3 linked regions of the Homo sapiens genome follow. Changing the gene in region 3 together with the main gene of any one other region gives a genetic interaction. Each region holds a gene or a part of one and is shown on either strand. Other genes may lie near its edges.

Region 1 (3,500 bases), on a different chromosome or scaffold from region 3:
AAAAAAATAAAATAAAACAAATGTGTAATATCTCTTACGGAGAAAAAGCAGCATTCTTAGAGACCTGTTCACTGTTGAAGATGTTTGTTTCTCTGTTTCACTTTATTTATATGAATCCTTTTAACTGTTATACCTCCTTGCTCACATGATCTAGTTTATTTGGCTTATTTAGGAGCATCTGTATTTCCATAGAAAGATATGTCAATACTAGTAAGGGATTGTGGACATTCCTATGTGCCTAAAGGAGTTCCAAGGAGATCTGTGGATGTTTGTTTAGTAGTAGTTTTTATAATTTGGCATCCACATTTGTTTAGAGATTTTTTAGGTGCTAATGATACCTTGAAGTGATTGTCTCTCTGTAGGATATGACAGACATATGTGGAAGCATCTTCAAGAACTGATTAGAAAATGAAACTCTCGGCCGGGCACGGTGGCTCACGCCTGTAATCCCCGCACTTTGGGAGGCCGAGGCGAGCAGATCACGAGGTCAGGAGATTGAGACCATCCTGGCTAACATGGTGAAACCCCGTCTCTACTAAAAATACAAAAAATTAGCCGGGCATCCTGGCGGGTGCCTGTAGTCCCAGCTACTTGGGAGGCTGAGGCAGGAGAATGGCGTGAACCCGGGAGGCGGAGCTTGCAGTGACCGGAGATGGCACCACTGTACTCCAGCCTGGGCGACAGAGCGAGACTCCGCCTCAAAAAATAAATAAATAAATAAATAAAAAGAAAATGAAACTCTCCTCTAGTAGTATTCTGAGCGGAGTTCAGCTATACCATGTTGCTGTTAAGAAAAGATGATATATAATTAAAATAAAGCAGGCCAGGCGCAGTGGCTCACTCCTGCAATCCCAGCACTTTTGGAGGCTGAGGCAGGTGGATCACCTGAGGTCAGGAGTTCAGGACCAGCCTGGCCAACATGGTGAAACCCCGTCTCTACTAAAATTACAAAAATTAGCCGGGCGTGGCCAGGCGCGGTGGCTCACGCCTGTAATCCCAGCACTTTGGGAGGCCGAGATGGGTGGATCACCTGAGGTTGGGAGTTCGAGACCAGCCTGACCAACATGGAGGAACCCCATCGCTGCTAAAAACACAAAATTAGCCAGGCATGGTGGCACATGCCTGTAATCCCAGCTACTTGGGAAGGCTGAGGCAGGCAAATCACTTTAACCTGGGAGGCGGAGGTTGCAGTGAGCCAAGATCACGCCATTGTACTCCAGCCTGGGCAACAAGAGTGAAACCATCTCAAAAAAAAAAAAAAAAAAACCCGGGCATGGTGGCGCACGTCTGTAATCCCAGCTACTCGGGAGGCTGAGGCTTGAGAATCGTTTGCACCTGGGAGACGGAGGTTGCAGTGAGCCGAGATCGCACCATTGCCCTCCATCCTGGGCAGTGAAGTAAGACTCTGTCTCCAGGAAAAAAAAAGAAAAGAAACAAGAAAAACATACTCTTGGCCAGGCACAGTGGCTCACACCTGTAATCCCAGGACTTTGGGAGGCCAAGGCAGGAGGAGCCCAGGAGTTTGAGACCAGCCTGAGCAACATAACAAGACCCTGTCTCTACCAAAATAAAAGTTTAAAAATTAGTCATGCATGATGATGCATGCCTATAGTCCTAGCTACTTGGGAGGCTAAGGCAGGAGGATTACTTGAACCCAGGAATTTGAGGCTTTAGTGAGCCGTGATCATGCCACTATACTCCAGCCTGGGCAACAGAGTTGCTGTCTCTTTTTAAAACAAAACAAAATTTTGCAGTGCTGTGCTATAACTGCACTATCCAGCGTGGTAGCTACTAGCCACATGCAGCTATTATACTCTTGAAATGTGGCTAGTGAGACTGAAGAACTGAATTGTTGGTTGTATGTAATCTTAATATTATATATTAAAGTAGGCGTACATGGACAGTAGCTACCATGTTCAACTGTGCAGTTCTAAGCCTTTTTCTTTAATGTGTAGATGAATGTGCTATTTTTTATAAAAATGGTATCATGCCCCTTAAGGTAGCTTTGTAGCAAACCTTTAATTTAGAAAGTATGTGATCCTTGCTTATGTTGTTAGATGCTCTTCTACACTGATCTACAGACAATGCTTTGTGAACATCTTTGCTAACTAAATCTCTGGGCATGTCCTTAAAGATAAATTGCAAGAACAGAACTGCTGCGACAGGGGAAATATGGATGGATAGATGGATGGATGATTAAATGGATGGATGATTAGATGGATGAATGATTGGATGGATGGATGGATGGATGATTGGATGGATGGATAGATGGATGATTGGATGGTTGGATGGATAGATGGATGATTGGATGGATGGATGGATGATTGGATGGATGGATGGATGGATGATTGGATGGATGGATGGATGGATGATTGGATGGATGGATGGATGGATGGATGATTAGATGGATGATTAGATGGATGATTGGATGGATAGATAGATGGGTGGGTGGGTGGATGGATGGATGATTGGATGATTGGATGGATGGATGGATGGATGGATGGATGGATGGATGGATATATAGATATATAGTGAATGCCTGTATATCCTTCACTTAGTTACCATTTGTTGGTTTTCCTTCATGTATGTGTGTATATTTTGCTGAAATCATTTGAGCGTTCTTTGCAGACATCGTAACACTTTACCCCCAAGTATTTTAGCATGAACCACCTAAGAACAAGGATAGTATATAAATAACCAAAATAAAATTATTCACACTCAAGAAATTTACCATTGATAGACTACATATTGAGATTTGTTCTTGTTATTTCCATAATGCCCTGCGGGACTTCTTTTTAACCCTCATCCAGGACCCAGTCAGGGATCGTACGTTATATTCACTCCTCATGTCTTATGAGTTTTCAGTTTCCTTTAATCTAGAATCCCCTAGACTTTTATTTTCTTCTGGTCTTTTGATGTTTTTGGTATGTATAGTTTTATCGTATTATGAAATAGATGCTATTTAAACATTTTGCCTTTTACTGAGTCAAATAACTTTTTTGTTTTTAAGGTGGGTCATGATAACTGGGTACGTGGAGTTCTGTTCCATTCTGGGGGGAAGTTTATTTTGAGTTGTGCTGATGACAAGACCCTACGCGTATGGGATTACAAGAACAAGCGATGCATGAAGACCCTCAATGCGCATGAACACTTTGTTACCTCCTTGGGTATGTACGCCTCGCGAGGTCTCTGAACATTAGATTTTGGAGTGCCAGACAAACTGTGTTTTACATAATCGTGTGGACTTTGCCAGGTAAGAAATGACTGTGCTTTCAGGGCAGAATAGAGAAGACATGAAAATCTTGTGGATTCCTACCATTTGTTTTAAATTCTCCTTTCCCGTTAACTCTTTCCATCGTTAGCCTTATAATAAAAACATTACTTTCTCCACTGCACAACATTGGTTTTGGAAACCACAATTTGTGAAGAGGTTACTTACCACTCTGATGGGTAATTTTTCTCCCCTATTAGTTTGTTTCTCAAACAAAATCTTCCTCAAC
Region 2 (3,500 bases), on a different chromosome or scaffold from region 3:
GAAGTAGGAGAAATCAAAGTCAAAGTAGAGTAAATCATGGAGGGATCCAGGAAAGCTTGGTGATTAACAAGACACCTGAGGGATGGGGGAAAGGGGTTCTCACCACAGTCATAATCTTAGGTTTAATGCAGAAGATTCATTCTGCCCTCATTCCCCCTAACGGAAAGAAAGTTTTTGCTGTTTGGTTCTTATTTATGAAGTTCACGGACTTTACAGCTGATAGGACCAGGGCAGCAGGAGTTGACACAAAGCAGGAAACTAAAGCAAATTACTTGTAAAAACATAAAAGTCCATCACAACCTTTAACTTTTCCACTGTATCTGTTACTGCCAGAGGACACTGATCAGAAATATACTGAATTGTTAGGGTGATAGGGTGTGATCTAAGGTTGTCATACCGGCCAGGTTGGCCTTCATAAACAAAGACAACAGAAGAACCTTTTCAGATTTGTAAACTCTCAGAAAACTAACCACCCGAGTATGTTTTAACCATTGTCCTGAGTGATTTACGTTTTCAATTCATTTTATCCTTACCGCATCACCGTAGAGAAGGTTCCATTATTGTCCACATTTTACAGAATAGGGAAGTGTCACAGAGTGCTTTATCCTGCCCAAAGTCACACAACTAAGTGCAGAGCCAGCATTCAAACCCAGGCATTCTGGAATCTGTATAGTGCTCAACAGCTCCATCTGTTCTTTAACACCTAGCTCAAATATTTGTAACTCTGCAAACCTTTCCCTGACTATAGTCCACCCCCTCCAGAGTTAAAGTGCTCTGCTCTTTTGTCCTGTTTCCTAACATTCTAGACTTGGAGTTTTATGAACAGATTGTTTTATTATCTTCCACTTAAACTATTATTTGGGTCAAAATTTGTAGAAGGAAGTACAGTTCACCCTTGAACAACAACAGGGGTTAGAGACACCGACTTCGCCCCACCCACCCCACCCCACACAGTCAAAAATCTGCATAGAACTTTTAACTGCATGGAAAATTTAACTAGTAGCCTACTGTTGACCAGAAGCCTTAGTGATAACGTAGTCAATTAACACATATTTGTGTTGTATGTGTTATATCCTGTATTCTTACAATAAATCATAAGAGAGGAAACATTCATGAAGTGAGAGTGGATCATCATAAAGGTCATCTTCATTATCTTCACATTGAGTAGGCTGAGGAAGAGGAGGGGTTGGTCTTATTGACTCAGGTGGAAGAAAACCCATGTGTAAATGGACCTGCACAGTTCAAACCTGTATTGTTCAAGGGCCAACTGTACTATTCTGTGCTGGGTTAGGAGACCTAGTTTATAGACACAAAAGTAGCTGAGAAGTTACTTTTTAAAAGAAAAACACTTATGCAACAAACATTTCAAAGCACCTACAAAGTGATCTTAGTATGTATTTGCTAGTAAGAAAGCTGACATATAATTATCTCATTCTTAGAGCCCATCAGTTGATACCTATTATCAACTAATGAGTTTCTTAAACATTCCAAGAGAATAATTGGCTGAGTGTGTGCTAGTTAAATAATATAAAGCATGGGAAATAAGTCTCAGGTTAGGTCACCATTTTGAGAAAATTTCTACACATAATGTTTACATTTAGGAGAGGAAAAATGTATTTCCATTTTTAATGTTAATGTCCATCATAGTTTGCCATTTCAATTCAGTAAGTATGTACCTCTGGTAAGGGATGGAAATAAGAAAAATGACTACACAGTGCTGCCCTCAGGGGGCTCGCCTGAATCTAATGGGTGTGAAGATAGATACTTGCACAATTTACAATAAAAGACCAATTTGTAAGTATTGCTGGAGAAAGATGACTAATTCAGCCCCAAGGACAGAAGGCTGTATCAGCTGTTAAGAATGAAATTACAAAAGTTGAAAGATTTTATTTTCTGTAACCATAGCTTGACATACAGTAACCAAATGCCATATTTCTTTAAGATTGTTTGTTTGGGAAATTTTGCACTCTACAATTCGTAAGATGAACAAACATGTCCTGAAGATCCAGAAAGAGCTGGAAGAAGCTAAAGAGAAACTTGCTAGGCAACACAAACGGGTAAGTTTTGTGTAAACTTGTAAGTAGTTAAAGAAAATATACCAGAAACTCTGGAGAGGATTCAGAGTTCATTATCTTGATGATATTTCATTTTTTCTGAGCCCAAATTAATGCAGAGCAGAAATTTTTCTGAGCCCAATTTAATGCAGAAGCAGAAGAGGAGGAAGGAGCAGGTAGTGTGTTGTGTGCTGTTACACTGCATGATGAACCAGTTCAGGAAGCCACAAACTTCACTTCCCATAGTTCACTATCTCTGGGTCGGCCTCACGTTTGCACAAGGGAAGTAGCAGAAGGGAAGAGGACACTTGTATTTCTGTAGGAGTCTCTGGGGGAAGAGGGAGAGGACTATAGATACTTAACACTTTCCCCGTACTGTGAGGAGGAATGGGGCAGTCATTCCCAAGTTAACGGAATACTTCTCATAGTATTAATTTAGTATTTTAGCCATTTTGGAGGGAAGCAGTGAGTGACTTAACATGATACTACTATTCATTATGAAAGTATTTTCCAGTGTTATGCATATTTACCATAGTAGAAGGTGAAAAAAAGTTGAGTTTAGTGCCCTATAGGAACCTTTCGCAAGTTTGAGTACCAGTCTCCATGTAGACATACCTGTATACATATATGGATATAAACACTCAGACCTGAAATACTGTAAGGTAAATGGTGTCATCTCATTTTGTAGATGTTATAAAGTGAGACATAGAGAAGTTAAGTAACATAGCTAGTAGGTTGCATAGCTGGTAAATGACCAGAGCTAGGTTCTGACACAGGTCTGTCAGACTCCAGAGACTTTTCTCTCATGCCACACTGTTTCTAGAAGTGTGCTGTCCAACACAGTAGCCACTAGCTGCACGTGACTATTTTAGTTAAATACAATTTAACATTCAGTTCTTTGGTCACACAACCATATTTCAGGTGCTCAGTAGTAACGTGTGGTTGCGGTCGTAACAGGCTGCACATATTTATATAACATTGGCCCCATTGAAGAAAGGTCTATCTATTAGGTAGTAGTGCTCTAGAACCTTACCTTTGAGTGGTGTTAGGAAAGGACAGTCGTGTACCCACGTGTCTAGAACATAGAGCAGACCTCATAAATGGGCTGTGTTTATAGAGAGAAAAGCAAGATTCTGTGATATCCGAGAGCAGGGTTCTGATAATTTTGCTTAAAGTGGAGAGATCAGTAGATGGGGCCTTAGCAGTTAAGTATTAACCTCGAAGAATTACCAGGCTTTCTAGATTCAGTGATGCCACCTTCTTGCTGAAAGTACCTTGGTATGTAACACCTTAGAGCCACGTTCTGGCTCTGCCACTTTCTGACTGGGTGATGCTGGGAAAGTCATCTAACCTCTCAGCCTTTTTTCTCTGTAAAATGGAAATAAACCATGCCTTGTTTTTCTTTTCCTTTAAAAAGAAAAAATTAAATTCTATAAACTCTTCAGA
Region 3 (3,663 bases):
TCCCAAAGTGCTGAGATTACAGGCATGAGCCACAACGCTTGGCCTTTATTTTTATTTTTGGTTAAACTTAAAAAATTTTTTTATTTACTTATTTTAATTGGCAAATAAAAATTGTATATATGGTGTACAACACGATGTTTTGAAATATGTGTACCTTGTGGAGCTATTGACATATGCATTACATCTTTGTGGGGGAACACTTGAAATCTATTCTTAGTGATTTTCAAGTATGCAATGCCTTGGTTTTGTGTGTGTGTGTGTGTGTGGTTTTTTTTTTTTTTTTTTTTTTTTTTTTTGAGACAGAGTCTCACCCTGTCGCCCAGGCTGGAGTGCAGTGGCGCAATCTCAGCTCACTGTAACCTCTGCCTCCTGGGTTCAAGCGATTCTCCTGGCTCAGCCTCCCAAGCAGCTAGGACTACAGGCGTGTGCCACCATGCCAGGCTAATTTTGTATTTTTAGTAGAGACGGGGTTTCACCATGTTGATCAGGCTGGTCTTGAACTCCTGACCTCAGGTGATCCACCTGAGCCAGGCATCAGCCACCGAGCCAGGCATAAGCCACCACGCCGGGCCAATGTAACAACATAATAACATAATAATAACAATTGTGGCTGGGCATGGTGGCTCATGCCTGTAATCCCAGCACTTTGGGAGGCTGAGGCTGTCAGATCACAAGGTCAGGAGATCAAGACCATCCTGGCCAACATGATGAAACCCCATCTCTACTAAAAATACAAAAATTAGCCGGGTGTGATGGTGCGCGCCTGTCGTCCCAGCTACTCGGGAGGCTAAGGCAGGAGAATCGTTTGAACCTGGGAGGCGGAGGTTGCAGTGAGCTGAGATCATGCCACTGCACTGCAGCCTGGGCAACAGAGCAAGACTCCATCTCAAAAAAAAAAAAATTGTACTGTGTTATACAATAGATCTCTTGAACTTATTCCTCCCTTCTAACTGACATTTTGTATCCTTTGACCAACTTCTTCCCCTTCCCCCTCCCCCGCATATAAACATGTTTATGCTTGGCTAATTAAGAATTATTAGTTATCAGAGTATTGTATTGTCATGGCTTTTGAATATATGCTCTCTATTTTGTATGTTCTCTAAACAGTTCAGGGACCAGCTAGAGATGAACAACCAGCTAAGTAACACAAACCATTGGCACTCAGTCAAGGAATGACTTGCCAAGGCCAAGGAGTTAGAGAACTAAGCTAAGGACAGCTAGGCTTCTATGTAATAATGTTCATGCTCCTTAAACACAAAGTCACCAAGAGTCATTAACTATCTGGCCAGTACTCATTGTATTAAATGCCGTATGTGAAATGCCCCTAAATATTAAGGTTTAACTCTCAATTTATGAAACTGCTTTTTAAAATAAGCATATTCATTCACAAACCTTTTTATTTTGTTATTTTTATTTTTTTTAACCTTTTTCTTTGTGTCAGACATTATTATAGGTACTGTGGATCCAAGGCCAGGTGCAGTGGCTCATGCCTGTAATGCCAGCACTTTGGGAGGCCGAGGCGGGAGGATCACCTGAGGTCAGGAGTTCAAGACCAGCCTGACCAACATGGAGAAACCTCGTCTCTACTAAAAATACAAAAATTTGCTGGGCGTGGTTGTGGGTGCCTGTGGGTGCTGGTAATCCCAGCTACTTGGGAGGCCGAGGCAGGAGAATCACTTGAACCTGGGAGGCGGAGGTTGCAGTGAGCCAAGATTGTGCTGTTGCACTCCAGCCTGGGTGACAAGAGCAAAACTCCATTTCAAAAACAAACAAAAAACAGAAACAAAATTAGCTAGGTTTGGAGGCACATGCCTGTAATCCCAGCTACTCAGAAGGCTGAGGCAGGAGAATCGCTTGAACTCGGGAAGTGGAGGTTGCTGTGAGCTGAGATCGTGCCATTGCACTCCAGCCTGGGCAATAGGAGCGAAACTCTGTCTTAAAATAAATAAATAAATAAATAAATAAATAAAGTACTGTGGTACTATGGATCCAAAATATTTTGATAGTTTGAGCTCAAAGTCTAGCAGGGAGATAAATAGATTAATTATTAAACCACATAAGAAATATTGATAGATATGAACAAGTGTGAGAGCAAGGCAGATATAGCAAGTAAGGCTAAAGAAGTGATCTTGCTATCCAGGAATTGGTTGTTTTTTTTTTTTTGGTTTTGGTTTTTTTTTTGAGACTGAGTCTCGCTCTGTCGCCCAGGGTGGAGTGCAGTGGTGTGATCTTGGCTCACTGCAACCTCTGCCTCCTGGGTTCAAGTGATTCTCCTACCTCAGCCACCCGGGTAGCTGGCATTACAGGGGTGTGCCAGTATGCCTGGCTAATTTTTGTATTTTTACTAGAGGTGGGGTTTCACCATGTCGGCCAGGCTTGTCTCAACCTCCTGACCTCAAGTGACCCACCCACCTTGGCCTCCCATAGTGCTGGGATTACAGGCATGAGCTACCACGCCGGCCCTTAGGAATTGAGTTTTGAAGGATGAGTTTAACAGGCTCTGAGGGAGGCTCTATTCAGAGAACAGCATGAGCAAAGGCATGTGGTCAAAAGATGGTTTGCTGTAGCTGGACATAATGTAATGTTCAGTGTGGCAGAATTACAGTGGATTGAAAGGAATTTGTGGGAGGTTAGGTCCAGAGAGTTGGCCACGTTGTGAAGTGCGTTGTTTGCCCACAGTTTGGATCTTATACTGTAAGCAGCGGGAAATTGTTAAAGACTTTTAGGCAGGAGAATGATGAAACCATGTTATTTTATTTATTTTTCAGTAAATTAGTGTTGGTGTTATTGAATGATATGTAAGAGATTGGTGCGAGGGAGATCAGTTCAGGAGCTCTTGTTACAGTCCTAGTGAGAAACGAAGAGGATATAGACTATAGCAATGGATTGGAATGAATTTTCCTAGCTGTTAATGATAGGATTGGGTGATGCCATCATATGGGGGGGGTGGTGAAAGAAAAGAAATCAAGGATGACTTAGGTTATAGTTTGGTAGTTGGGTGGTAATAATCATTAACCAGAACTTTTGTATACAAATTATTATTCATCATGCCATTCAAAGTTATATATCTATTTTATTGTTGCTGTTACCTAGACATTTATGAAACTTTTTGGTATACCATCAGATCAAGTTTAGAAACTCATTATATTACAGTCATATAATGTATGACTATAATAAGATAAATTATAGTCACATCTTGTTTTGGACTAAAAATGGTATTCAGTTTGATCACATAGACTTGGCTTTGAATAACTTTTTTTTTCCAGAAATCAAATTTATTTTCAGTGGATGAGTATTTTTGTCACCACTGAGGGTTTTAAAAAGAATGTGATGCAAATTCTAAAGACCTCGGGGAGACCAGTGATAATATGTTACATATATATGTGGTGTATTGTAGTTTAGACAATGCTTTCCTGTATGTTTTCTTGTGCAGTCCCCTCAGCAACCAATAAGGTAGGTATTATCAATCCCATTTTATAACTGAAAACGCTGAAGCTCAATGACTCACTCAAGTTATACAACTTATTCTAAGACTTCAGTCTTGATTTTTTTTTTTTTTTTTGAGATGGAGTCCCGCTCTGTCACCAGGCTGGAGTGCAGTGGCCCAATCCCAGCTCACTGCAACCTCTGCCTCGCGGGTTCAAGCGATTCTCCTGCCTCAGC

What was found.
Region 1: changes in SDHC (region 3) and PAFAH1B1 together harm fitness more than expected from each alone (negative genetic interaction), as found in Homo sapiens cells (one large-scale study listed by BioGRID).
Region 2: changes in SDHC (region 3) and NCBP1 together harm fitness less than expected from each alone (positive genetic interaction), as found in Homo sapiens cells (one large-scale study listed by BioGRID).

What each region holds. Positions count from the first base shown.
Region 1 is NC_000017.11:2,677,154-2,680,653, forward strand, and holds part of PAFAH1B1 (platelet-activating factor acetylhydrolase IB subunit beta), read left to right. Parts: intron 1-3,010; coding exon 3,011-3,167; intron 3,168-3,500. UniProt on the Homo sapiens protein: Regulatory subunit (beta subunit) of the cytosolic type I platelet-activating factor (PAF) acetylhydrolase (PAF-AH (I)), an enzyme that catalyzes the hydrolyze of the acetyl group at the sn-2 position of PAF and its analogs and participates in PAF inactivation.
Region 2 is NC_000009.12:97,664,821-97,668,320, forward strand, and holds part of NCBP1 (nuclear cap-binding protein subunit 1), read left to right. Parts: intron 1-1,942; coding exon 1,943-2,057; intron 2,058-3,500. UniProt on the Homo sapiens protein: Component of the cap-binding complex (CBC), which binds cotranscriptionally to the 5'-cap of pre-mRNAs and is involved in various processes such as pre-mRNA splicing, translation regulation, nonsense-mediated mRNA decay, RNA-mediated gene silencing (RNAi) by microRNAs (miRNAs) and mRNA export.
Region 3 is NC_000001.11:161,317,284-161,320,946, forward strand, and holds part of SDHC (succinate dehydrogenase cytochrome b560 subunit, mitochondrial isoform 1 precursor), read left to right. Parts: intron 1-3,663. UniProt on the Homo sapiens protein: Membrane-anchoring subunit of succinate dehydrogenase (SDH) that is involved in complex II of the mitochondrial electron transport chain and is responsible for transferring electrons from succinate to ubiquinone (coenzyme Q).